Linked DNA regions of Homo sapiens: all the other regions are reported to be linked to region 1. The links are microRNA targets in miRTarBase. Many come from high-throughput screens and were not tested one by one. Region 1 holds a microRNA gene; each other region holds the end of a gene's coding sequence.

What was found. Region 1 holds the annotated microRNA hsa-miR-130b-3p (CAGUGCAAUGAUGAAAGGGCAU, at 2,333-2,354, shown strand). A microRNA usually pairs through its seed, bases 2 to 8, with sites in the 3' UTR of a target mRNA and lowers its output. Matches are read on the target gene's strand: a 7mer-m8 pairs with bases 2 to 8, a 7mer-A1 pairs with bases 2 to 7 and ends in A, and an 8mer does both.
Region 2: miRTarBase lists SLC10A3 as a target of hsa-miR-130b-3p. Seed matches in the 3' UTR shown: 7mer-A1 at 906-912.
Region 3: the mRNA of RAB5A is a reported target of hsa-miR-130b-3p. Seed matches in the 3' UTR shown: 7mer-A1 at 2,840-2,846 and 8mer at 2,506-2,513.
Region 4: miRTarBase lists NUS1 as a target of hsa-miR-130b-3p. Seed matches in the 3' UTR shown: 7mer-m8 at 1,947-1,953 and 7mer-m8 at 2,554-2,560.
Region 5: miRTarBase lists DTX4 as a target of hsa-miR-130b-3p. Seed matches in the 3' UTR shown: 7mer-m8 at 405-411.
Region 6: miRTarBase lists SYBU as a target of hsa-miR-130b-3p. Seed matches in the 3' UTR shown: 8mer at 3,089-3,096 and 7mer-m8 at 2,911-2,917.

Annotation. Positions count from the first base shown.
Region 1 is chr22:21,651,022-21,655,108 of GRCh38, forward strand. MIR130B (microRNA 130b) reads left to right here and starts at 2,283; the gene lies at 2,283-2,364. MIR301B (microRNA 301b) reads left to right here and starts at 1,960; the gene lies at 1,960-2,037. It also overlaps the pseudogene LOC107985532. RefSeq lists enhancers at 745-1,415, 1,416-2,087, 1,624-1,673.
Region 2 is chrX:154,484,275-154,488,355 of GRCh38, reverse strand. SLC10A3 (solute carrier family 10 member 3) reads left to right here. Exons shown (of 2, transcript NM_019848.5): 2 at 1-1,045. The coding sequence ends at 849. UBL4A (ubiquitin like 4A) reads left to right here and starts at 1,741. Exons shown (of 4, transcript NM_014235.5): 1 at 1,741-1,819; 2 at 2,023-2,128; 3 at 2,377-2,585; 4 at 2,707-4,081. The coding sequence starts at 1,772. The coding sequence ends at 2,817. RefSeq lists enhancers at 1,138-1,197, 1,535-2,293, 2,294-3,052 and silencers at 1,458-1,717, 2,208-2,357.
Region 3 is chr3:19,983,411-19,987,497 of GRCh38, reverse strand. RAB5A (RAB5A, member RAS oncogene family) reads right to left here. Exons shown (of 6, transcript NM_004162.5): 6 at 2,323-3,790. The coding sequence ends at 3,675. PP2D1 (protein phosphatase 2C like domain containing 1) reads left to right here. Exons shown (of 3, transcript NM_001252657.2): 3 at 1,316-2,152. The coding sequence ends at 2,118. Among named protein-coding and RNA genes, the nearest start is that of PP2D1, 27 kb to the left of the region's middle.
Region 4 is chr6:117,706,664-117,710,750 of GRCh38, forward strand. NUS1 (NUS1 dehydrodolichyl diphosphate synthase subunit) reads left to right here. Exons shown (of 5, transcript NM_138459.5): 5 at 262-4,064. The coding sequence ends at 352. Among named protein-coding and RNA genes, the nearest start is that of NUS1, 33 kb to the left of the region's middle.
Region 5 is chr11:59,204,241-59,208,327 of GRCh38, reverse strand. It overlaps DTX4 (deltex E3 ubiquitin ligase 4), which reads right to left. Exons shown (of 9, transcript NM_015177.2): 9 at 1-3,652. The coding sequence ends at 3,419. Among named protein-coding and RNA genes, the nearest start is that of MPEG1, 6.6 kb to the left of the region's middle.
Region 6 is chr8:109,571,691-109,575,767 of GRCh38, forward strand. SYBU (syntabulin) reads right to left here. Exons shown (of 7, transcript NM_001099754.2): 7 at 2,288-4,077. The coding sequence ends at 3,216. Among named protein-coding and RNA genes, the nearest start is that of EBAG9, 34 kb to the left of the region's middle. RefSeq lists an enhancer at 3,131-3,360.

The sequences.
Region 1 (4,087 bases):
ATAGGTAAGCAGTGAGGTGAGGAGTGTTGACCAAGAGGAACCCAACAGTGCACAAGTGGGAATCCCTGGGCAACCAAAGCCCATGCTGTGGGAGCAGATAAGATTGTTCCAGGCAGAATGCAGGACAAGGCCAAAAATAAAAACTGTAGTGGCAGCAGAACTCACTTTCAGTGAACACTTACTAAATGCCAGGTGCTGGGCCAACAATTTACACAGCATCTCATTTGCTGCTGGCAACAGCCAGCCCTATGGGGCAGGTTTGATTGCCATCTCAATTTTGCAAGAAGGCAACAGGGGTTCATAAAGATTCAAAACCACCTCTGCCTGCCTCAAAAACATTTGCTCTCAGCCATTGGACCGATAATAAAGCAGGAGGGGTTGCAGGGGCACAGTTGTCTAAGCACAGCTCCTCCCTTCCCTCTAGGAGCCGTTCAACAGCCCGGTGATCAATATACTTCCTAGTCATCAGCGAAGGGTAGGCGCTTAATGAATGCTTCTCCGCAAAGTGGATCACAATCACGAAGAAACCAAAGCTTACACTTCCGTTCCCCATATCTCCCACAGATCCAAAAGACCACGGGGCCCAGGACCCGGTCTCCATAGCCCAGCCATACCCGGGGGTTTTCAGGAAAGCCTCACTCGCGTCCTGCCGGGCGATCCGGGGTGGTTGAGTTGGGAGGGGGGCTACCCCAGTTTGTAAGCCCACCACGTCCAAATATCCCATCCAGGAGGCGCAGAGAGCAACCTCAGCATGCATAACAAAGCAGCCCGCGGCCGCGTTCACAGCAGGCTTGGCGGGGGTTCGGGAATTTCCACAGGGTCTCGGCCTCCCCCACTGTGGGCTCGCGCCTGGCGCCCCTCACCGGGCTTCCAAGCGCTCTTGTCGGTGTCGCTAGAAAACTCGCAGAGATTGGAGCTGAGAAAAGGCGGGCAAAGTTCCTTTTGATAAGTTATGAATGGGGAAAAAGTGTTTGTAGAACTCATTGTTAAAACCACGGAGCCCGAGACTCGGCCGGCGCCGGGCCAATCGGAACCCGGAGGCTATTTTGAAATCTCTCCCGTCTCAGCCAACAGGCATGCAGGAGGCGAATCCCCGCGCCAGCGCCGGCCAATGAGCGCAGCGCTATGCTAAGGAGTCGGGGGCCCGGCCCCTCCGACTGTCAGCGGGTTAAAGATGGAGCCGGCAGGCGAGGGGCCGCCACGAGGTGCAGGGTCGTCTGGACGGGGACCCGGGGGCAGACGATGGCCGGGATCCTCTTCCGTCTAACCCTCCGCGTCCTGACCGGGCCCTGGGCGGAAGGGATGTCTGCGTGAGTCAGCTGTGTCTGAGGAGGGGATCCTGGGCTGGGCTGGGCGGCCCTACTCGGCGGGTCAGGCGGAGGGGCGCGGCCGGGATCCCGGGGGCCCTCTTTGGAGCAGGGAACTCTAGAAGGGCGGGGAGCCCCCATCCTCTGCTCCACTCTGGGCCTCCAGGCAGAAGAATATGTTAGAAAAGAATCCAGAGTGTATCTAGTGCAGGGCAAGGGGCCAGGGATGGAGTCGTCAGCTAGAAGGGGCGCGTCGTCCCGGGGTGGGGCCGCCCTTTTTCTCCTGGAGCCGCGGGCCGAGTCAGGGCGCAGGGTCGTCGGGCTGTACCCACCCCGCTCCGGGCGCTAGCCGGCTTTGGACTGCGGCTGAGTGCGGGTTCGTCTTTGTGTGTGCGCCCCCTCCCCTGCGTGGCCCGTCAGCTCCTGCTCCGGGATTGGAACAACCCCCTAGTCTGGGGTTTCTCCTCCACCTCAATCCGGAGCGTTCTGGGAAAGGCCTGGGTGTCCTGGGTTCTGAAGACCCCAGGGACGCACCCCGCTGCGGTCTCCTTCCCTGCCCGGATGGACTGGACGGGGGCTCTGCCCCACCCACCCATCCATGGTTGAGCTTCCCGCCCTGCGTGTATTGGGGGTGGTGGGGTCCCCCCTGCTGGCCGCAGGTGCTCTGACGAGGTTGCACTACTGTGCTCTGAGAAGCAGTGCAATGATATTGTCAAAGCATCTGGGACCAGCCTTGGGGATCTCCCTCCCTATAACCCTCACCTCCCACTCCCCAGGCAGGGCCCCTTGGGCTTGCAGGCCCTCCCCTCCCCCCTACCCAATTCGCTCCCTTCTCCATGGAAACTTGAGATTCTAGACAGGCCTGGGCCTCTGGGGTCAGAGGGCACCCTTTCCCCCCGGGCAGAGGCCCCGCCCCAGCCAGCCTGCATTCCAGGTCTCAGATCCCTGCAGACCACCCTGGGGGAGGCACTGGCAGGCCTGCCCGACACTCTTTCCCTGTTGCACTACTATAGGCCGCTGGGAAGCAGTGCAATGATGAAAGGGCATCGGTCAGGTCCAGCCTGCTACCCTGGGAGGGGGAAAGGGAGCTTGCTGCCTCACTCCACTTTCCAGTTGAGAAGGTTGAGGTGCCCAGAGGGTAAGTGTTTCCACTGATTAGGCACAGATGTGAAGCTGGACTGGACCCTCCATCAGAGGATCAGGTGGGTGCAGAGCTGGAGAATCATCCCTAAACTCTCCATCCTGTCATGGCTGGACAGGTGCAGGAGCAGACCTCCCCAGCTTCTGAAAAGCTCTTGTTTGAAGGTCTTTCCACATTGGGTCCCTGGGGTAAGACTGGAACTCCAGGCCTGGTCAGGGTCTTAGGGGAAATACACGCCCAGTCTTTTGCATGGAAGATCATTCTAGGCCTGGCTTGGGCCCAGTCCTTGCTGGAAGCTTGAACAGGGCCAGGCTCTGGAGAGAATGTTCTTCTGGGTGGCAGTTGGGTAAGGGGGTAAGGCAGGCCTTTCAGGAGGCAGCCTTCACCCCAGGACGTCAGCTGGAGTGGTACTATGGACTGACCAGTTGACTGATCAGTTGAGTGGACTCAGCTGGAGTGGTACTATGTGAGATGGATGGGTGGACTTGGGATACAAAGCCTGCAAATGATGTCTACCAACCATGCCAGTTTGTTCTCTTACAGAGAGGTGTGCCCTGAACCTGCAGGAGGGACTGAGGTGTCTAACATTCCAACCGTCCCAGCTGGAATACAGGGTTGGAGCTGAACTTCCAAGGAGCCTGACCCCAGGCATGCTTGGATGACCACCTCTACCATCAAGACCTGACACGGTGCAAAAGGTTTCTACGTGCCCAGTCACAGTCATTCAAATCTTCTTTAGAGGAGGACTAGGTTTCCAGATGGGCTTTTGGGAGTTCCCCTCATCCCTAGCTGGGCGCATTGGGAAACTGCTTTACCCCTACCCTGGGGAGAGAAGCCCTGGCACCCGTGGGAGGAACAGGGGCAATGACACATGCTCCTTGGCTTCCTAGTCCTGATCCCTTGGGGTTCCTTGATCCTAGGGTCATCTGACTTAGATCCATCCTCCCTTCCTCTAGGCACCAGGGGCCATGGCTGGAGGTGGCCACCCCTCAGTCCTGTACAGATTCTGTACCCACTGGCTGGAGACCCCCATGCAGCTGTCTCCTGCTCTTGCTGCGGGGAGACTGAACTCAGGGCTCTGCTCACTGGCTCCCTCCCAATGGAAGCCTTCTCTGGGCTTCACAGCATTGAATATTCCTCCAGAACAGCTTGTTAAATCAAATTTTTTTTTTTTTAGATGGAGTCTTGCTCTGTCGCCCAGGCTGGAGTGCAGTGGCACGATCTTGGCTCACTGCAAACTCCGCCTCCCGGGTTTAAGCGATTCTCCTGCCTCGGCCTCCCGAATAGCTGGGACTACAGGTGCTACCACACCCAGTAATTTTTGTATTTTTAGTAGAAACGGGGATTCACTATGTTGGCCAGGCTAGTCTCGAACTCCTGACCTCATGATCTGCCCTTCTGGGCCTCCCAAAGTGCTGGGATTACAGGCATGAGCCACCGCACCCGGCCTAAATCAAAATGTTCTCCCTGTGGCAGAAGTGTCCATTAGACTGGGAGCCCCTGAGGCAGAGACAACTGTCATTTAAAAAATCTCTGGCCAGGCGCAGTGGCTCATGCCTGTAATCCCAGCACTTTGGGAGGCCGAGGCAGGTGGATCACCTAAGTTCGGGAGTTTGAGACCAGCCTGACCAACATGGAG
Region 2 (4,081 bases), not on the chromosome of region 1:
CTCCTGCCTCTTATCTTTGTCAACAAGTGTTCGTTTGGGTGCAAAGTGGAACTCGAGGTTCTGAAGGGGCTCATGCAGAGCCCCCAGCCCATGCTGCTGGGCCTCCTGGGCCAGTTTCTGGTCATGCCCTTGTACGCTTTCCTCATGGCCAAGGTCTTCATGCTGCCCAAGGCCCTGGCTCTGGGCCTCATCATCACCTGCTCGTCGCCTGGCGGCGGGGGGAGCTACCTCTTCAGCCTCCTTCTTGGAGGGGACGTCACCCTGGCCATCTCCATGACTTTCCTCTCTACGGTGGCTGCCACTGGCTTCTTGCCTCTGTCTTCGGCCATCTACAGCCGCCTGCTCAGCATCCATGAGACGCTCCACGTGCCCATCTCCAAGATCCTGGGGACCCTGCTGTTCATTGCCATCCCCATAGCCGTGGGCGTGCTGATCAAGTCCAAGCTCCCCAAGTTCTCCCAGCTGCTGCTGCAGGTCGTCAAGCCCTTCAGCTTTGTGCTCCTCCTGGGCGGCCTCTTCCTGGCCTATCGCATGGGGGTCTTCATCCTGGCAGGCATCCGGCTACCCATCGTACTGGTGGGTATCACGGTGCCCCTGGTTGGCCTGTTGGTGGGCTACTGCCTAGCCACGTGTCTGAAGCTGCCAGTGGCCCAGCGGCGGACGGTCAGCATTGAGGTAGGGGTGCAGAACAGCCTGCTGGCCTTGGCCATGCTGCAGCTATCCCTCCGCCGCCTTCAAGCTGACTATGCCTCCCAGGCCCCCTTCATTGTGGCGCTGAGCGGCACCTCCGAGATGCTGGCCTTGGTCATTGGCCACTTCATCTACAGCAGCCTGTTCCCAGTTCCCTGAGGCCTCTGGGTCAAGCTTTCATCAGCCCCAGCCCCCACACTCCACCAAAGTTCTCATGCACTATGCACTCAGAAAAATCCAGGCTTATTTTTTTTACTGATTTTTTATTCTCCAGCTTTCAGTGCCAAAGAGGCCATGCTGAGTTAGGTAGGTGGGCGCTGCCCAGAAAATATATTTCAATAAAAGAGAGAAGCAAGCTTGGGTCCCTTCTACTCTTTGCCCTTTGGGGCCTGGGCGTGGGGGTAGAAAGAGTGTGCTGGGTAAGTGTGGACCAGGGTGGAGGGCCAGCTTGGGTGACACGGTGACCCCTGCATAGGCTTTCCCTATCAGCCCTCCCCGGGGGTGTCCCCACTCTGGGAGAGGTGGGAGGATGAGGGCAGAGGCGTAGCCCCCCTGCCCCCTCTCAAGCTCAGTGGAGCGTTTCGCAGCCAGACCAGAAAGGAGGAGGTAGGAAGCCACCAGACAGGGAGCGGGGGCGGGCCGTCTGTGGGTATGCAGGGCCAGGCGCCGCCAGCAGTCCTGGCGCGTGAGGTGGGCCAGGCAGTCCGCGGGGGCGAGCGTACCTTCTGGCCCTCCCTTCTCCATGTCCCAGCTCCCAGATGACGCCAACCTGGCCCGACTGGTTCCTGCTCCCAACTCCCCCGCGTCGTTGCTTTGGGAGGGGTCCGCCGGCCAGGGCGGTCGATGCGCGCATGCTAGGCGGGACCCCGGGGGGACTCCTCCCGGGGCGCAATTGGGCCGGGGGGCGGGGCCGGGGCGCGGACGGGGCAGGAGGGCGGGGCCGGGAAGCGCGGGCGGCGGGCGCGCCCCTCTCGCTGCTTCCGGCGGCGGCGGGCGGTTCCAGCGCGCGCCCGGGGCGGCGGCGCGCGGCGGGGGGTGGTTGGGGTGCGCGCCGGCCCGAGTGGACGCCGTCGCGACCGCCATGCAGCTGACGGTGAAGGCGCTGCAGGGCCGCGAGTGCAGCCTGCAGGTAGGGTCCCCGGGCCGGGCCGCCGGGTCCGGCGCGCTCTCTCGCCCGCTCCTGGCAGGGGGACCGGCAGGGCCGAGGGCGGGCACGGGGCGGCCGGGCCGAGGGCCGGGAGCCGGGAGAGCTGCCCTCGGGGGCGGACGCGTGGGCTTCGCCGTCTGGGGGCCGCGGGCTCAACCCTTGCCTCCCACCCTCCGCGCGGCCAGGTGCCAGAGGACGAGCTGGTGTCCACGCTGAAGCAGCTGGTCTCCGAGAAGCTGAACGTCCCAGTGCGCCAGCAGCGGCTGCTGTTCAAGGGCAAGGCCCTGGCAGGTACCCAGGGAGAGGAGACGCCCGGGGAGCCCCGCAGGAAGCGGGACCGGGGTGCGCGGGCCGAGGCCAGCAGCCGTGTGTCGGGTCGGGGTGCGGGCGCCAAGCGCCACATGACCCCAAGGGAGGCGGCCGCATGCCTCACAGCCGGATGCCGCAGCGCTCCGCTCCCGCCGCCCGAGGCGGCCTCGCGCCCCGGGCCACCCCCACGGCGGTGGAGGAGGAGGAACCCATCGATCTGTCTTTGGCAGATGGGAAACGACTCTCGGATTATAGCATCGGGCCCAACTCCAAGCTCAACCTAGTGGTCAAACCCCTGGAGAAGGTGCTACTAGAAGAAGGCGAGGCCCAGAGGCTGGCCGACTCCCCACCCCCGCAGGTCTGGCAGCTGATCTCCAAAGTCTTGGCCCGCCACTTCAGTGCGGCAGATGCCAGCAGGGTCCTGGAACAGCTACAGAGGGTGAGAAGGGTAACCCTGGGCATCCTCTTCAGGCCCAGTTGCTCCCAGCCCCTACCTCTGTTGCAGTGTATGCCCCCCCACCACTGGCAGCCCCTGAATCTTCCTGCCCTTCTCTCCCCAGGATTACGAGAGGTCCCTGAGTCGCCTGACGCTGGACGACATCGAACGGTTGGCCAGCCGCTTCCTGCACCCTGAAGTGACTGAGACAATGGAGAAGGGCTTCTCCAAATAGAATTCTCGGAGCATGGGGAGGTGCCCAACGCCAGGCTACCGCTGCATGTCGCACTAAGTGTGTTCTCCTGTTGCAGTTGGGCTCATCATCATCATAGCTGGCATGTACCTGGCTCTGGCCAGGTGCTAGGCACTCCTCACAGCTTGACCTGGGTTTGCTTCCACACCCTCAGAAGAGGAGAGCCGGCACAGCAGAGGCACCGGCGATGAAGTGGCACAGCCCCAGTCGGAATCCAGCGGCTTCTGAAAGTGCCTTGGTGTGAGAAGGAGGAAGGGGCCGCTTGGAGAGCTGGGCTCTCGCATGTCATGTTTAGCCCACTGAGAATATACCCTCAGGTGACTCCCTCCCGATCCTGAAAGGGAAAGCAGCTGTCACCTGACTTCTGGCGGGTCCAACATAGCCCTCAGCTTACCTCTGCAGGAGGCCAAGTGACAGCCAGCCCTGGAACCCCCCGACCCCCGCAGCTGCTGCAGCCAGTGTGCCAGTGTGCGTTCGACAAATGGAAAAGCAGATTGGGGCCAGGGAGTCAGCAAGGCACCCCAGCTCTGTGATGTGACTTTGGGCGAGTCTCAGTGCCACTTGGTCCCCAGCCATGGACTCTATACAGTGAGGGCCACTCACCGACCTGAGTCAGTGTCCTCTGTCTCACAGGGCCCCTCTCCCTTCTGTTCAGTAAACAAACTGAAGCCAAAAATGAAGCCGTGGCCAAGTGTGACCCAGAGATGGGGTGTCCTGGCCCTTAGTGACACAGCTCCTCTCTGGGGCACCCTATCTGCTTGTCTCGTCCAGGAAGCGTTAGGGCTGATGGGTGACTCAGCAAGGCAGTGTCAGAGCTGGGACTGGGCGTAGGCCTTTGTCCTCATCCCCAGCACTGGCCTCCCTGTGGAAGATGAACATATCCCAGCCACCTGTGTACAGGGGCTCACTTTGTGTGCTCCTTGTTGCCTGAGAAGAAACCTTGGGGTGCCAGGGTGGGGGCAGAAGCATGGACTGGGTTCCGGTTCATCCTCCTCCACCCTGCCGTGTGTGTGGGCACAAGAGGACATCTAACCACCTGCTCCTTGGAGGAGGCCCCCAGGGGTGGTAGAGGCTGGAAGGAAGCCACATCAGGAGGACGCCACTCCGGCCCTTCACCCTTGCCAAGTGAGCTGCTCACAGTGTGGTCAGGGCTGCGCGTGCTGGAGGCCCTCCTGCCTGGGCCTTGTGGGGCAAATATTGGGTCCCCAGGCTGGAAAGATGGACAGAGGCCCAATGGGTGAAGGCT
Region 3 (4,087 bases), not on the chromosome of region 1:
CTTCCTATTCCAGGAATTTTAAATCTCAAAGATGTTATAATATTCAAATATCATTAACCCCATCTCAGAAGTTTAATAACTTTCTATAAATCATAAATGATTTAATATCAAGAAAAACAATATGTAATTATATGTAATTTAAAAAATACGTAATTATATTCCTAAAAACTTGGGGAAAATCAATTTTTCCTAACAAACTAAAAAAATTCAGTGGTTCTTAAAAAATACACCAAAAAAAGTTACAGTAATATATAACCACCCTGCAATCTGTTCAGATCATGTTTAAACTGTAAGATTTCAATGAAGCACACCATCACAGATTCATTTGAACCACGGACAAACTACAATCAACTTTTAAGATTTCAGTTTCCAACCAAAGGGTTTAATGTTGGCTGCCTATTATTCATGTAATACATTAACAACATATTTCTCCACAGGAATGATTTTTTTTTTTTTTTTTGAGGCAGATTTTTGCTCTTGTTGCCCAGGCTGGAGTGCAATGGCATCATCTCAGCTCACCACAACCTCCACCTCCCGGGTTCAAGCAATTCTCCTGCCTCAGCCTCCCAAGTAGCTGAGATTACAGGAACATGGCCACCACGTCCGGCTAATTTTTTGTATTTTTAGTAGAGATGGGGTTTCTCCATGTTGGTCAGGCTGGTCTCGAACGCCTGACCTCAGGTGATCCGCCCACCTCGGCCTCCCAAAGTGCTGGGATTAAAGGCTTGAGCCACCACACCTGGCGGATTGACTTAAATTTTAGAATCTACACATTATAGCAACCTAGTTAAGACTAACATTAATAGTGACATTCTAATTTTTTCATCACCCATGACCTAAGTATATTCAAGTTTTAACTTGTACTGGTTACACAACTGTCATTCTTTTTAAAAAATCAAAGTTTGTGTTTTAAATTGAAAAAGCATTTATCTTAAAAACATTTAAAAATCTCCTAGATGGAATATATGTTGGCTATAAAAAAGTTCAACTCATGACTCTGCAATGTGAGTAATATTAAGTCATTTCATTTCAAAATTTAGAAGTTACTTTGCATTATCTGTAATGTTAATACTAAATGTAATAGTTTTAAACACTAAAAGCTGCTTAACAATGAGGGATAAATTGACCTGTTTGAAATCTGTATTTACTGTAAATCATTCAGTAGTGATATATTACACATATTTAAACGTACTTTTACATAGCCTGCTTTCTGTTTAGCATTGAAACACAGAATTTACTAAAGTTAGCAGTAGATTTTGATACAATTGGTTATCTCTAGGATAAAAATTTCTTCTTTTAAAAAATAATCTTTTAGGTAATGTGCAAGCAGTCTTATGCAGAAATGGGAAAGGTTTTTGCCTAACCAAAGAACATACTACACGAAACACAAATGAAAGAAGAAGAATACTTCAGAATGGAGCAGTCATTAGTTCAAATGAACCATACGGGCTTGTAGAGGGGCAAGTAAAAACTACACGAGGACTTGGATTTCATGGAAATCTCAAGCTGAAAAAATCCATTATCCCAGCACCTCAAACTATTTCTGTCCCTATAGATGACCTATGTCAATTCCTTATTGTAGCTACTAATGGACTTTGGGAAGTTTTGGATAAAGAGGAAGTTACTGCCCTGGCAATGACAACATTTCACATGTATAAAGAAACATACTGTCCTATCATACCTAACAAATCACCATCCAAAGGGCCTCTGCTTTTTTCAACCAGTGAACCAAACCTTACTAAATCACAGAGTAATATCCACGTATTGTTTCAGTATAAATCTGTATCTGAAGTACGTGTGTCAACTACAAATTCCAAAGAAAATTTATCCGATTCAAACTATTCTAAATACTGTATTTATAACCCTGAGAATGTAGAAACATTTCCAGCAGAAACGACTCATCGTAAACCTTGCAGTGAAAAAGTAACTGACAGACCAACTAGTGTAAATGATGTGGCAACAAATGAAAAAGAATCAGACACTAAGAGTTTCTATGAAGGCGCAGCTGAGTATGTTAGCCATGAACTTGTAAATGCTGCTTTACTGGCTGGCTCCAGAGACAACATTACAGTTATGGTAATATTTCTCAATGGAAGTGAATATCAGCTTCTGACATAAAAAAATAAAGTTCCAATTATCCAGAGCACCAAAATATAAAGTGATTCTTCAATGATCCAGCTATTAGGATGATTCATCAATACCATGCAAATAATTTTATGAACATAGTAAAGAAAATATAAAAGCGGATACTAGGTCATATAGTATCATTTATATATATTCACTGTTTTATGCCAAAAAAAAGGAAAAGAGAAAAGCCGATACTTGCTTTTTATACCACTTTATTCCAACCTGAGCACCTCAATATAAAACTAAACACTGGTGAACCGTTTTCCTAATTCTGCATTATCATAAATGTACAAGTTCTCCTAGCAGTCCAACACTTAAATAGATTAAATCATCTCTGACACATGGTAGCTTTCATATAATGAAAATACCTAAAATAATTAGTGCAATATACTGAACTGATCAAAATAAAATGAACTTTGGAAAGGAAGGCTGCAAGATTGTTACTAACATATTGCAATACTTTATGTTACAAATTACGGGTACATTGTTTATTATGGTTCTAGCCATGGAGGAACAACTGAAGCCCCTTCCTGTCAAAGGGGGAGAGAGAAATAATTAGCTGTTTTAGTAACAGTACATTTTGTATGCTTTTAAGCAACTCTTAAATATTACAGAAAAGTAATACAGATATGGAGACTACAATGCAGTACCCTATTTACAGTACAGCTGAAGATCGAATTTAAAATAATCAAGTTTGAATATACATAATTGTTAGTGCATTGACTATATTATGTCAAAAGGGAACAAAAGCCCCCTCCCCACCCCAAACAACAAAACCTGTGTAATGGCCAGCGGTGATTAATTAGAAATCACAGACACCTGGTTTATTTCATTTTTGTTAAAGAACTCACATGTTTGAAAGGAACACTGACCATTAAGGTGCATTTATTAGTTCTCAAAATTCCTAAAACAAGATGGGGTTGCATTTGATTTTTACCCCATTTAAAAAAAAAAAACCAGACTGGGTATAATTAAGATACCATTAATACTCTTCCCCACCCCTGACCTTGTATATGTGGGATTATTTTCTTGTGGTTAATTTATTAAAATGTGGAATGTACATTTTAAATACAGGTACCAGGAGAAATGAACATTTGCCTGAATACTATGGCTAAGCATCATAAATAACTTTAGAATCTCCTTCTAAACAAAGAATGTTTTTGAAAAGCCCAAATTAGTAAGTTCCAATTTTTTTTTCACAGGTGACTACTGTACCAGTGTGGAGAAATGGGCTGGTTAACTGTGTGGGCCCAGACAGTCATTTGTCTATATTCCTAGTGATGAGAAATTATTCCCCCTAACCTTCCAATGAAACAAGTGTCCACATAGTTCTCATTTTTCCCTATTGTTGAAACATTAGTGAGAGGGACCCATGCATGTTATTAAAAATTAAGTTCAAAACACTTAAAATAATTCTGTATTAGAAACTTGACTCTATCATAAGTCTCTTCTTTTGGAAGTCATACTGGGCTGGTTAAATGCTCCAATTCCATTGTTATTAACATTTAGGAAGCAGAAGACTATTCCAGCTAGTTCAAACTAGAGGTTTAGTTACTACAACACTGATTCCTGGTTGGTTGTGTGGGTTCGGTAAGGTCTACTCCTCTTCCTCTGGCAGAATTTGCTCCTGGATTTTGTGGTTCATTCTTTGGCAATTTTTTAGCTGAAAGAAAATGATCAAATAAATAGAATATTTGAATACTCATATTAATATCAGTTTCACCTGCTTATCTATAATTTTTCTTTCCAGTTAGGTTACCCCCAAAGTATCATATAACCATATGTTCATTCTTTTCAAATGTTTACTGAGTATTGAATGCCAAAATATTGGTTGCTGTCTTAGGGAGTTTGATTTCTGGGGTAATTGTGTTGGGGGAACGGTAGATGGGGACTGGTTGTAGATACAATTAAAACTTAAGCCTAACTAGTGCTTTATGTAATTCTCTATACCGATTCACTC
Region 4 (4,087 bases), not on the chromosome of region 1:
ACTCGTCAATAAACAGTGAGTGCCACTACCCCTCGGTGCCTCAGAGGCTCTCTGCTATTTCCCAGTCAGTTCTGTCAGGGCCCCACCCTTTCAGTCTACATATTATGATTAAGACATTTTCCGTGCCTGTCATGGTGCTGTCTGGTGGAGGATAATTTGGTGTATTCTATTCTTAACTTCTTTTTGGTCCTTATCTTCTGGTTCCCCCCTACATTACAGTGTATATCTAATTGCTTTTCTCCCCCCGTGTTTTCTTTTCAGCTCTTTGCCTTCCCACCTAAACATCAGTTATGAGGACTTTTTCTCTGCCCTTCGTCAATATGCAGCCTGTGAACAGCGTCTGGGAAAGTAGTGGTCATTGGTTGCATAATTTGATTTGAGGCTTGTGGAGGAAAGGAACCAAGTGACTCTGATGTTTACAAAGCACCTATGAAACCCTGTACACACCTAGTTCATAATCCTCATAATTTATCAACAAACACAAAAAAGTGTCTTACTTGAGAGTGAGTGTGTGTGTGTGCGTGTGCACGTGCACACATGTGCACGTTTGTATGTATGGAAATAAACTTATAAATGGGGACGTATTGGAGAAGGAAATACATAGACCTACAACTTTGAGCAAATAGCAGTGATGTTTTAGGAACTGAAATGTCACACTTAAAGTCTTCAGCCCAGCTACTTCCCTATTTTTGTGGGGAGAAGAGGGCCTGATTAGAACTGTTCTGGTTGTGTTTGGCGGGAGGGGAATAATTTTTGTTCAGTCCTTCTTAGTGACCAAACTTTAATTTTTAAGAATAATATATTGACTTACTGAACTGAAGCATTCTGAGTTGAAAGGAGCTCCAGAGGAGTGGAGTTCTGTGTTGCTCACATGTTAAAATCTTGCTCACCTTCAGAGCAGAGGGAATACCTATCTTCAGATATCCGTCCATTTTCATCTCTTAATTGTAGTCAAAAGTATGACTTGAGAGTGTTGCTCTGGTATTCTGGGTTCTGAAGTCTGGTATTCTGGTATTCTGGGTTCAAAAGTATGACTTGAGAGTGTTGCTCTGGTATTCTGAGAGTTGCTCTGTATTCTGGGTTCTGAAGATTATTTGAAAAATAACTCCTACTACATTGAAATGCAGACTTAAAAATTTAAACATTGGATTAGGCAGTCAAAAAAACCAAGCAAGCATAAAAGGTCAATAAGTTGTAATCTTGATAGTAAAGGTGGAAAACTTATTATAAATGGAAAGAAAGTTTTATTTCCTTTTTTGTTTGATGGGCAGTATGCCATATTATACCCAAAGTTCTTTTAAAAAATATTTCCATCAACCATTTTTATTTAAAATAAACATTTGAGGGAAGTTACCAAGGCAGCTTTTTTCCTCAAAAGTAACCTGTTCCTCTTTGGAATAGCACATTTTAGGGGCATGGTTAATACCTGAGATTTTTACTCAGTAAATCCTGATGGTTACTGTGTGTAAAATATCTTTAAGTAGGATTGAAGGCCTCTGTGGGGGAATAAAATATTACCAAAGTCTATAAAAATAAATTTTACATGTTCTCTTTTATGACAGAGAGCAGCACTGGTTCTGTTATTTTTAAAATGAATAATTGATTTCTTGATAGGTGTTTAATATTTCTTCCCTCACTGCTGATTCTTAGATAGAAACCATTCTTTATATTTGATAGACTGCTTTCAGAAAACCCTTATCAACAAGTGTACAATACTTATCTAAAACTATACATTTAGAATGGAGCAGTTTAATACTAGATCTCAGAAGTTTTGAAAAATAGCAAAGAAGACTGGATTTGGAAAGCATGGTCTACAATTGGTTGTTAAATTCTGAAGCTATGAAGAATAAATGTTTCAACTTTGGATTATGAAACCCCATTTATGATTTTTTAAATACACTTGAAATAAAAATGATTAAACTAAATTTTGGTCCAGTGACATTACTTTGCACTGCATAATCCATTATACGTTGTACGACTTTTTTTTTTTGTTTTAATTTATTACTGAGAGTTTTGTGTGAAGCTACAGCATATCTAACCAGAGAATTTCTGATTCCTTATACTGTGATTATATTATATTGAGGCATTTGTAGTGCAGCTGAAGACTGAATTTATGCCTTTTGTAAACATGATAGGTATAAATGTCTTATAAACATTCTGGAGTATGTATAGCTTTAATGAATGAAATTTAATGGACCTGATTAAAATGAAGGGATTTAATCGTTGTTAAAGTTAAGTTAGTCAAATAAATTACCTACTGGAATATAGCCCAAGCCAGTAAAGGTTTAATATTTGCATTTTCGTGCTTTTATTTTCTCCTTCCATTCATAAGTATATACTTGAAAGTACATCTGTAGCCTATGATTTGAGTCTCTTGAAGTTCTAGGAAGAGGCAAACTACAAACTACTAGGATTCTGATTTCAGATGTAGTCATTCCAGAACCTTCTCTTTATGAGTTCACCTGCTAGTACAATCTCCACAACTTGAATGGCATTGGTTGTTCTGTAATTCCTGCCAAAAGCATCACAAGTTGTACATCATCAAGGCTCCCTTTGCACTCCCAAGAAGAACTGGTAATTTTAAACAAAAGTATGTGTCTTTATTTGTATTGGAAAATACTGTCTTTAAATTGTTTCTTGTTGACACTCCCCACAATGGAAAAATTACCGAATTAAACCTGTTTTATGGATGGCAGCTTGGAGCATAGCAAGAAGTTGGAGGATTTGAATTCCATTCCCAGTTCTCATTGTGTTTTGTTTCTTAAAACTATAATAATCGGTTACTGTTATAAAGTTTAAAAGGTGGTTTTAATGTGAATAGCAAATTCTGGTATATCGTGACTAACGCTTAAGAATGCCTGTCTTTGAGAGGAAGGTGTTATAATATTAATGAACAGTGCCAAATACACTGTGCATATCTGCAATTTAATCTTTGAATGTATGTTACTGGATTAGCTCCCTCCTCCTGTGTGATGGTACCATGCATAGAGTCAATCAAATCCTTGTGATGTTTTGTATGGACTTTGACAATATGTAAATAATGTGTAAAGCCAGTTTTTATGATTAAGGAATCAAATTTATTGAATTTTATTATTGAAAGTTGAAACTTAACATGTATGAACAAAAACCAATAAAAGAATATACTCTTTTCATTGACTATAGTATTATGTGAATGCTACATTTGTTCTGAACACTTAGGGGCTGCAAAAATGTAATAAGAAATGCATATGACTAGATAGCAATAGTGTTTTTTTTAGATGGTATGCTCTTGATTGAAATATATTCTCACTTTTACCAGGTTAAACATTTGGAATCTTATAATGTTACTTGCTTTTTGATAGATAATAGTGAAATAAATTCAGCTTTGCCATTGCTGGAGTTGTCAAAATTCCACAGTAATTAAAATTTGAATTTTTACCGAATATGAAATTTCCAAATTAAAAACGTATATGTGTACTCTTTTAAAAAGGAATTTGATAGTTCTTGTCAAATGAGAAAATTTAAAGGTAAGAGTTATGGTTTGTCTTATGCTGCATAGACTATTCACCTCCTAACTTGAAGGTCTAATCATAAGACAATTGTTTTTTTGTGCATAGTTTTCATCTAAAATTAAGTTTACCAAAGGCAAATAACTGCTTACTAGGAACTTCCTTTAGCAAAAATTACTATAAAGTTCAGGACAGTTTGAAATAAAACCCAGGAAACAAGATTAATGTGAGCAGTTCTCCAAGATCCTAACTGGTGGGACATAAACTATGATGCAATGGATAGGAAAAGGTAGTGCAAAAAGAATTTCTTAAGGTTTAAAAAATACACTTTTCATTATAGGAAAAAGAAGATTCAGAGAAACAAAGGAATGTAACCTTATTGATTACATTTTTGGTGATCACCGAGAATTTTTTGTACTATATTTTAAAAAATGTATTCTACTGTAACAAGTTAATAAAGAGATTTTTTAAAAAACTATAAACTAGAAATTGAGAGTCTTGCATTCTCTTTTGTATTTGATTATTGTGTCTGGATATAAATTACAATAGCACATGAAAATAAAATGTTTTAAAAAATTATAGTCCACATTCAGTTATTC
Region 5 (4,087 bases), not on the chromosome of region 1:
ATGTGGAAAATTTGTTTTTAAGTGGTTGGGGAGGGACTTCCCCCACCCAGTGGCAGGGCTTGTGGTTGCTTACAGACTCAGGGAGGTAACCCAAATCCCTCACAGATAGGTGCACTAATCTACAAACAGCAGAAGGCCAACAAGAGTAACAATTTTGTGGTTGTTCATTTGCCATTTATTGTTCTGCAAAGACACCTCATGAGCACCAGGTGGCGATGTCCTTTCACGGAGCAACACCAAAGACTTCAAAAACATTCCAGTTACAAACAGAACAATTCACTTAGGACATTCACCTGCCTCTCCCAGAACCCCCAATCTAATGCCGGGGACCACAGAGAAGGAAAGGGGTCAGGGGTCCTTTCTTGTACCAGTGAGCCTTCCCCCAGTTTTCTCATGCACACAACAGTGCAATACCAAGACGAGTACTTTTGACCAAGTATAAAACCACAGAGAAGACCAAAATGTACAAAAATGGGAAGAGAATGAAAACACAAAGGCACACGCAGCCACAAATACACAATTAACCTTTTAGGGGATGAGCATCTGACGAGGTTTGTCTCCAATCCAATTTGTCATCCCTGGAGACTCTGGAAGGGAGAAACTAGGCTGCTGGTGCTAAGACCATGAAAGGGAAGGCATGGAATCCCCTACTTGGGCCAGGAGAGCAGAGCAGAGCTTCTAGTGGGAAAACACTCTGTGTCAAGGTAGTAGATGCACAGGGCTCAGCTGGCAGGGTTCTCACTGAAATCTAGACTGCACCTTTCCAGGTTGGCACAAGACAAAGGGCAGAGGAATGCTCCCCGCCTTGCCGGGCACAGTGTTAGAAAGGAAATTCAAGATCCCTACTGCCCAGAAAGCCACACAAGAACAGCACGAGGATGAGGTAGCCCCTACTGGGCATCTGCAGAGAGGACAAGAAAGGGGGCACAGACACAATCAAAAGCCCAGGGGAAAAGGCTTGAAGGTATGAAGTCGACCTCTCCAAGTGGTATTGCCACAGGCACAGCGGCTCCCTTTCCATCTTGAGTCTTCTTCCTTCTGCTCCTGGCCACCCCCTTCCCCACCTATACCTTCTTCTCCCTGATGTGGGGAAACTGATCTCTCCCCAGTGCCTAATTCCATTTTGAAAGTCTGTCTTCTTTTCTTCCCCACCTCCTACTGCCTCATTGTGTCTTTCTTCCCATGGACCCTCAGCCTATTTCTGCATCCTTGCGGCCAAGAAGCTCAGCAGATACTTGACCAGTGTGCGAAGGTAGAGACGGCATGAGGCTCTCCAAGTAATCTCTGTACATGGTAACCTGACAAAGGGCATGGGTGTGATATTAAACACCGCAGGGATGTCTCTTCCATTTAGTTCAGGTGTTTCCTTCCTAACTATGGCAGGAAATTGCCCTGTGGTGCAGTAACCTTGGGACCAGTCTCCTGGTCTGCTGGTGAGATACAATGGCTGCCTGCCGACAGGAGACACAGGGACAAGGATGGCAGAGCAATTCCTCCCATCAGAGCTCCCTCTGGTGGAGCTGATCAACATCCCTGTAACCATTTGGAAAGAGAGCAAAGGCTCAGCACCAGCACATCCACAGAACTGGGTGACAGGCAGGTGAATCGACTGACAGGCAGGTGAATCGACTATCCACCCCAATGTCAAAATGGCTGGAGGCCTAACAGCAAGCAGCTATGGGGCTGGCTTTATGAAAGATTGGCCTCCAGTTCCCATCTAAGTACCATTTTTGAAGGTTCTCTTGTTTCCATTTTTCTAGCATCAAAAACCTTCCAAATATTATGAAATATATATGCATATATATATATATATATATACGTCAAACCCCCAAAACATGAGGTATATAAATTCAAATTAGTATCCAGAGGAACTTCCCCCAAACACATAGTTCAAAGAACCCACTTTCAAAGGGGGAATTGGGTTTCCCTTCTTGATCCCCCCTGTTCTCCTCCCTGGCCCCCAATTCGTTCCTTACTGGGAGCCAAAGGCAATAAGAATGTTGGGGAGGAGATAGGGTCTTGGGACACAACAAGATGCAGATTGGACCAGACCATATTGTGATCCCAACTCCATTAGGAATGAGCTAAAGAGATTCTCTCCCTGCTGTAAGTCAATCTATAATAGATGAGGGAGATGAGGGACCCAGCAGCTCTGGGCTCTGATTAGCAAATTTGCATGGAAACAGATTGAAGCCTTCATAGAAACAAGACTGGATGGAGATGAGCTCTGATCCAATCTTGAAAAGAAATATAAAAGGATGAGTTCAGCCCTCACCTCATTGCATCTCCCCAGGCACAGTTCTGTCTTCATTGGGGTTTCAGTTCACTACGGGATAGGTTGGCAACAGGTGAGGAACGTCAAAGGACCACAGCCTGGCTGTTGGAGCCCCATCAGAACTGGGGTTTGGCATCTTGCAAAACAGAGTGCAGGGACATGACGGGCCTTCCCTTCAAGCTGGCCCAGCAATGCACACACGCCCACACACACACGCGCATGCACAGACACAGAGGGCACAGAGCCCAGCATGGGCTCCACTCACAGTGACTCGATGAAACTCATGGAATCTTTGAGCTGGTCTAGAATGAGTTGGGAAGAAGGCTGTGGGCTCCTCTCCCTGAGGACAGTTCAGATGCTCAGTGGGATGCAGGCTCTGGTTTGATCAGAGAGGGTCTAGAAACAGCATCATGGGATGCCACTCCAAAGAGGAACCCCAGAGTCCATCCATCCACATGAGAGAACCAGATGCCTCTTTGGACAGGTGAGAGCTGTGAGGAGGAGAGGAGGGCCCAGAGAAGCCAAGGACTGTGATGACAGCAGAATGTGCTCCCAGAGGCTTTTCCTTCTCCGACCCTCTTGGGAAGAAGTGCTTCCTTGCTCTACACCAAGGCATCAGTTTCTGATGTCACAGCAGTTTAGTGATTCACCCCTTTGCCCACCCCCCAACCTTGCACAGTGAGAGCTCCCTGCCTCCAGCAGAGGGAGAATAGCAGAAACTCCAGTCTCAAAGCAGAGTGGAAGTAGCAAGAAGCCGGCTGAGGCAAGAAACCCCGGCTTCCCAAAGCCAGGATATGGAGTGCCTAAGCACTGCCCATACCCTAGGTGTGCTGACCATGCCCCTACTTGGGAGGTGGGGTAGGGAGGGGATTCCTGCCTACCCAGCACCAAAAACTCCATGGGAACAGACCCAGGATGGCCCTCATCCCATCTCCCTTTGTGTTGGATGAGATTTATGAATGATGTCGCTATATTCAGTCTGGCTCCCACTGTGGTTGGGAGGGATGAGGGATGGACACAGGGCAGGAGGGGAGGATAGAAAGTTGGGAGGGCAGGACACCAACTTCTTCTACATTGACTCACTCTCCTCACTTCCTGTCCTGCAGTCTCCATGGCCCCTCCCACCTCAAAGCTTTTCTGGCCTCAGTCCTTCTCCTGGGCAGTGCTGTCCTCAGAGATGCCCTGGGCAGCCAGTTCAGCCAGCACATTATCCAGGTAATTGGCATCTGGGTAGCCATGGCCAGTGAGATTAGAGCCAAACTCTGTCTTGTGGTGGACCTCATTCCAGATGACGGTGTCTGACTCGCCTGTGGTGCTGGAGGTGCCAATGGCAAAAATGAGGCGGCGATCCCAGGCCACGAGCAGCAGCTTCAGAACCTAGAGGGATAAAAGTGGGACATGAAAGGCAGACATTAATTGGCAGTCAAAGACTATCCCTTGGACGGTAGAGAATCCTCCCAAGGGCCCCATCCCTTCCTGCATCATGATACCCTAAGCAGCCCAGGGGAAAGAAAGAGATTTGGACTTGGAGTTTGGGAGCTACAGGCTGAGTCCTGGCTCTGTCACTGAATAACTGTGTGACCTTGGAGAAGTTATAGCACCTCTCTGAACATTAATTTTTTTATGAAATGGCAATGGTACAATCTGCCTCTAAACGTTGTGAACATCTTACTGGACACTCCATGAAAAGTATTTTCACACCAGTGCCTACAACGCACTAATTGATAAATGTTATCTGCCAACATAACGGCTGCATTTTGAAAGACAGGATCTAGGAGTTGAAGGCGCTTATGATCTGAGAACTTCTGAAGT
Region 6 (4,077 bases), not on the chromosome of region 1:
TCTGTCTCTTCTCAATATTGAAAAATTAACCTTTGACCTTATGTCTCCTTTTAACTACCACTCAATTTCCTATTCTCCTTAATTGTAAAACTTAATAAAACAAAAAAATTCAGCAGCACATATTTCACTTTCTCGCTTCCATTCACTCTTCAACCTGCTCCAATTGGCCTCCCATCCCCATTTCTCCAAGGAATGATGTTGACACAGTCATTAAGACCTTGCTGTCAAAGCCGGTGAATATGTAACTATTCTCATATTAATCTCTTGGTGGGACTTCAACACAATTGACTGCTCCATTCTTCTTGAATTACTCTCTTCTCTTGGTTTTTATACTACTAATCACCTAGTTTTGCTCCTACATTTTGGGCTGTCATTTCTCTGGCTGTTTTGTTGGTTCTTCATCCTCCACCTCTATCTAAATATAGAAGTACCTCAGAAATCCATTTTTGACCTTTTTTCCTTCTCTACACTCTTCCTGGATGACCTCACTTGTTCCCATGGTTTTAATTACCACACAAATGCCAGAAAGGTTCAATGTTATAAGTCTAGTCCTGACAGCTCCCTTGATTTTCACATTTATATATGCAGTTACTCTTGATATCTTCACATAGATGTTTTAATAGACATCTCAGTTTTATTTTTCCCAAACTTGTTTCTCTTGAACTCTTCCCATTCTGAGCAAATATGGCCGCCATTGATCCAATTGCTCAAGCCAAAAACCTGAGTCACCCTTATTTTTTTTCTTTTCCTTACTCCACATTTAATCCATCAGCAAATCACATTAGTTCTATCTTCAAGCTATATCTGTAATTTTTCAACTTAAACTCTGTATCTACTTCCACCTCCAAATTGGCATCATCTCTCATCTGGACATTACAATAGACCCCTAAATGGCGTTCTTGAATAAACTGAAACCTCTACCATGGTTTGTGTGGCCCCATATGAAGCAGCTTCTTGTCTACTCCAACTTTCTCCTTCCTTCTCACTCTGCTCCAGCCACACTGACCTCCAGGATGCTCCTGTCACACTCTGAGTCCTTTCTGTCTGACGGCCTTTGCATTTGTTCCTCTTGCAACAAGATTTTGTCCCATATTTTTGCATGATTGACTCTTTTTCATCCATTCCCACCAATGTTATTTCTTCAGAGATGTGTTCCTTACTTTCACCTCTGCCACACTTGGTCAAAATACCTTATTTCCTTTGAGGCATTTACCACTATCTGAAACCATCTTTTGTTTATTTGATGGCATGTTGTGTCCCTCACAGACACAGAACATAAGCTTCCTGAGGACAGAAACCTTTTCTGTCTCCTTCACTTTTTAAGACCCATCCTGGAAAGTGCCCAGTTAGCATCGGAGTACCTGGTAAATATTTGCTGGATTAATTAATTCATTCAACAGCAATTTTTAGACTTCCCACTATGTGCCAGGTGCTGTACTAAGTTATTGTTAAATTTTAATTTATTTGTAGAAAATTAAAATATTTTAAAAATATTTTGTGGGTACCCAGTAGGTGTCTATATAGGGCTCATGAGCTATTTTGGTACAGGCATGCAATGTGTATGCAATAGTCACATCATGGAAGATGGGGTATCCATCCCCTCAAGCATCCTTTGTGTTGAAACGATCCAATTATATTATTTTAATTATTTTAATATATGCAATTAAATTATTATTGATTATAGGTTCCCTGTTGTGCTATCAAATTCTAAGTCTTATTCTTTCATTTGTTCTAGGTTCTTGACATACAGCTGTGAACAAAACAGAACAAAGATCCCTGCCCTCATGGAGCTAATATCTCAGTGGGAAAGATGGGTAATAACCAAGGCATTGTAAGTAAAAGGGTGGTATATTTAAAGGTGTTAAGTGCTATGGAAGAAGAGTTTCTGGATGAGAACTTGGGGTATTATCCAGCCTCTTTATCCTCCCTTTGTGTGGCAAAGTAGAAAAGGCATTTGCTTTTGCAAACACTTGAAATCGTGGCTTCTGGAGATGAGCTCTGAGATCCTGAACATTTTTCCTCTTTGAGGCTTAGTTCCCTCAAAGATATGTGTAAAATACTAATCTCAAAATTTTGGTGTAAGCACTAGATGAACATAGATCAAATACCTTCTCATCCCTTCCCAGCCACCCACCCTCATCCTATCATTCTGGGGAAGGAAGCTATATGGCACTACCATATTCTCCCTCTCCTGAACACCTAGCATGCTTAGATCAACCCAATGTTCCTGAAAACACTCAAGATGTACTTACTGCATAAACATATGGACAAAATAGTGTATGGGCAATTTAAAAGTAAACAAATCTACTTTTATTCAGAAATGATGCTTTTTAAGTAAGGGTAGGAAATCTTCATTTTCTTTAATAACTAACTCTTTTTCCCTCTTCCTAATTTAATTCAATTTTTACAGACCCCCTATTGATAAAGATGTAAGATCTGCTATTCATTGTCTTTCTTATACATAGAAGTAAAATCACAGAAATAATTATTATTTTATGGGAGGATAAAACATTTATTTAAATGGAAACACTAATCTTTATTTTCATCATGCTGAAGTGTGTGGTTACAATTTCCAATAAAACACTATATATAATAAGCAAAATAAGTTAGTACATTGTAAACTTATGCACAGTTTCATCAATTAACAGTTTAAGAACAAACAAGCCATTTAAGACTTTGGAGCTACATTTAGTAAAAAATTGCAAACACTCAAATCTTATCAACCCCAAGTAAGACAGTAAAGAGCTATTCAAGACTTCTTCAAACCAATTACACAAATACATGTTTATTTTTGGTTACAGTCCCCTGCTATGCACAAGACCATTGGAATGCTGGAACAATTACACATTTTAAAACGGCAAAAAGCAAAGCAAGGAGATAACATGCCAGCCTTAGAGAAGCTGTCTTGAAAGTGCAAACTGCGTTTTCTCTTCCTGAACCACTAGGATAAGAACGGGTACCTCAGACGACACGGCAGGGTCATGAGCATGCTTTCTATACCCCACTGGTGGGACATTTACTGGAACCAGGTCTCCATGCCTTTGAAGATACCTCCGGTTTTAAACAGTGAACAGGCTTCAACTAAATATAGTGCAAATCAAATACCAAGGAGCAAAACGACAGAATAGAGACTGTCACAGATGATTGACTTCCTGTTTCTCTACCTGGCACAACCCACATGGGACACATTGGCACACGGTAACAACAACTTCTATTTAGGTTTTGATACGGAAGGCGGTGCGGCGGAGCGAATGCAGGGCAACCACGCAACAGCCCCTGAGCAAGGCCCCGATGTTATACACAGGATCCGTTCCCCCTCTCTGAGTACTGAATGCCCACAGAACCGTGGGGACCACGGGGGCAGCCACAGCCAGGAGATCCACCAGGAAGCTGCTGCTCCAGTACTGCCTCACGACGCCCCCGCGAGCCAGTGGGATGACACCATCCAACCTCTCTTCCACGCAGGCTGCAAAATCCAGCTCTCTCATGAGGCGGTTTGCATGAACTTCTGCATCCACATTGGCGTAGGGGGTCTCCACGGGAGACAAAAGGATGGCTGAGTTTGGATTTCTTGGAGTTAAATCAACCACTAAGGCAGAGAGGGACTCTGGGAAGCTCTCCATCGAGTCTGGTTCAGACTCATCAGGGGACGCCAAGCTCGAGGGACAGGGGTCCTGGAGCTTCTGCAGCACACTCTGAATGAGCTCTGAGATGGCTGGGCTGTAGGGCACCACGTCGGTCTGAACGGCTCGCTCCACCACCACACTGCCCTCCTCCTGACCCATGACTATGGGCAGCAGCTCCAGGACGTTAGCCCCAGGGGTGGAATGCACAAGCTCCAGGTCACCAGATTCTGTGGTGGTGGCTGTCACTATCTCATCGAACAAATCTGTGCTGTTGGCTATGCTATCTCCTACCAGTAGCTCCCTGTCAGCCCCTTCCCCCGTGACCTGCTCTTCCAGAGATAACCCATCTGCCATTGTGTCAAGAGGGGGGTTGAGGGTTAAGCTCTTCTCTGGGGAATCACATGGAAAGTCTAGGCACAGTTCGTCCCTCAGAGAGCCACTGTGTGCCATC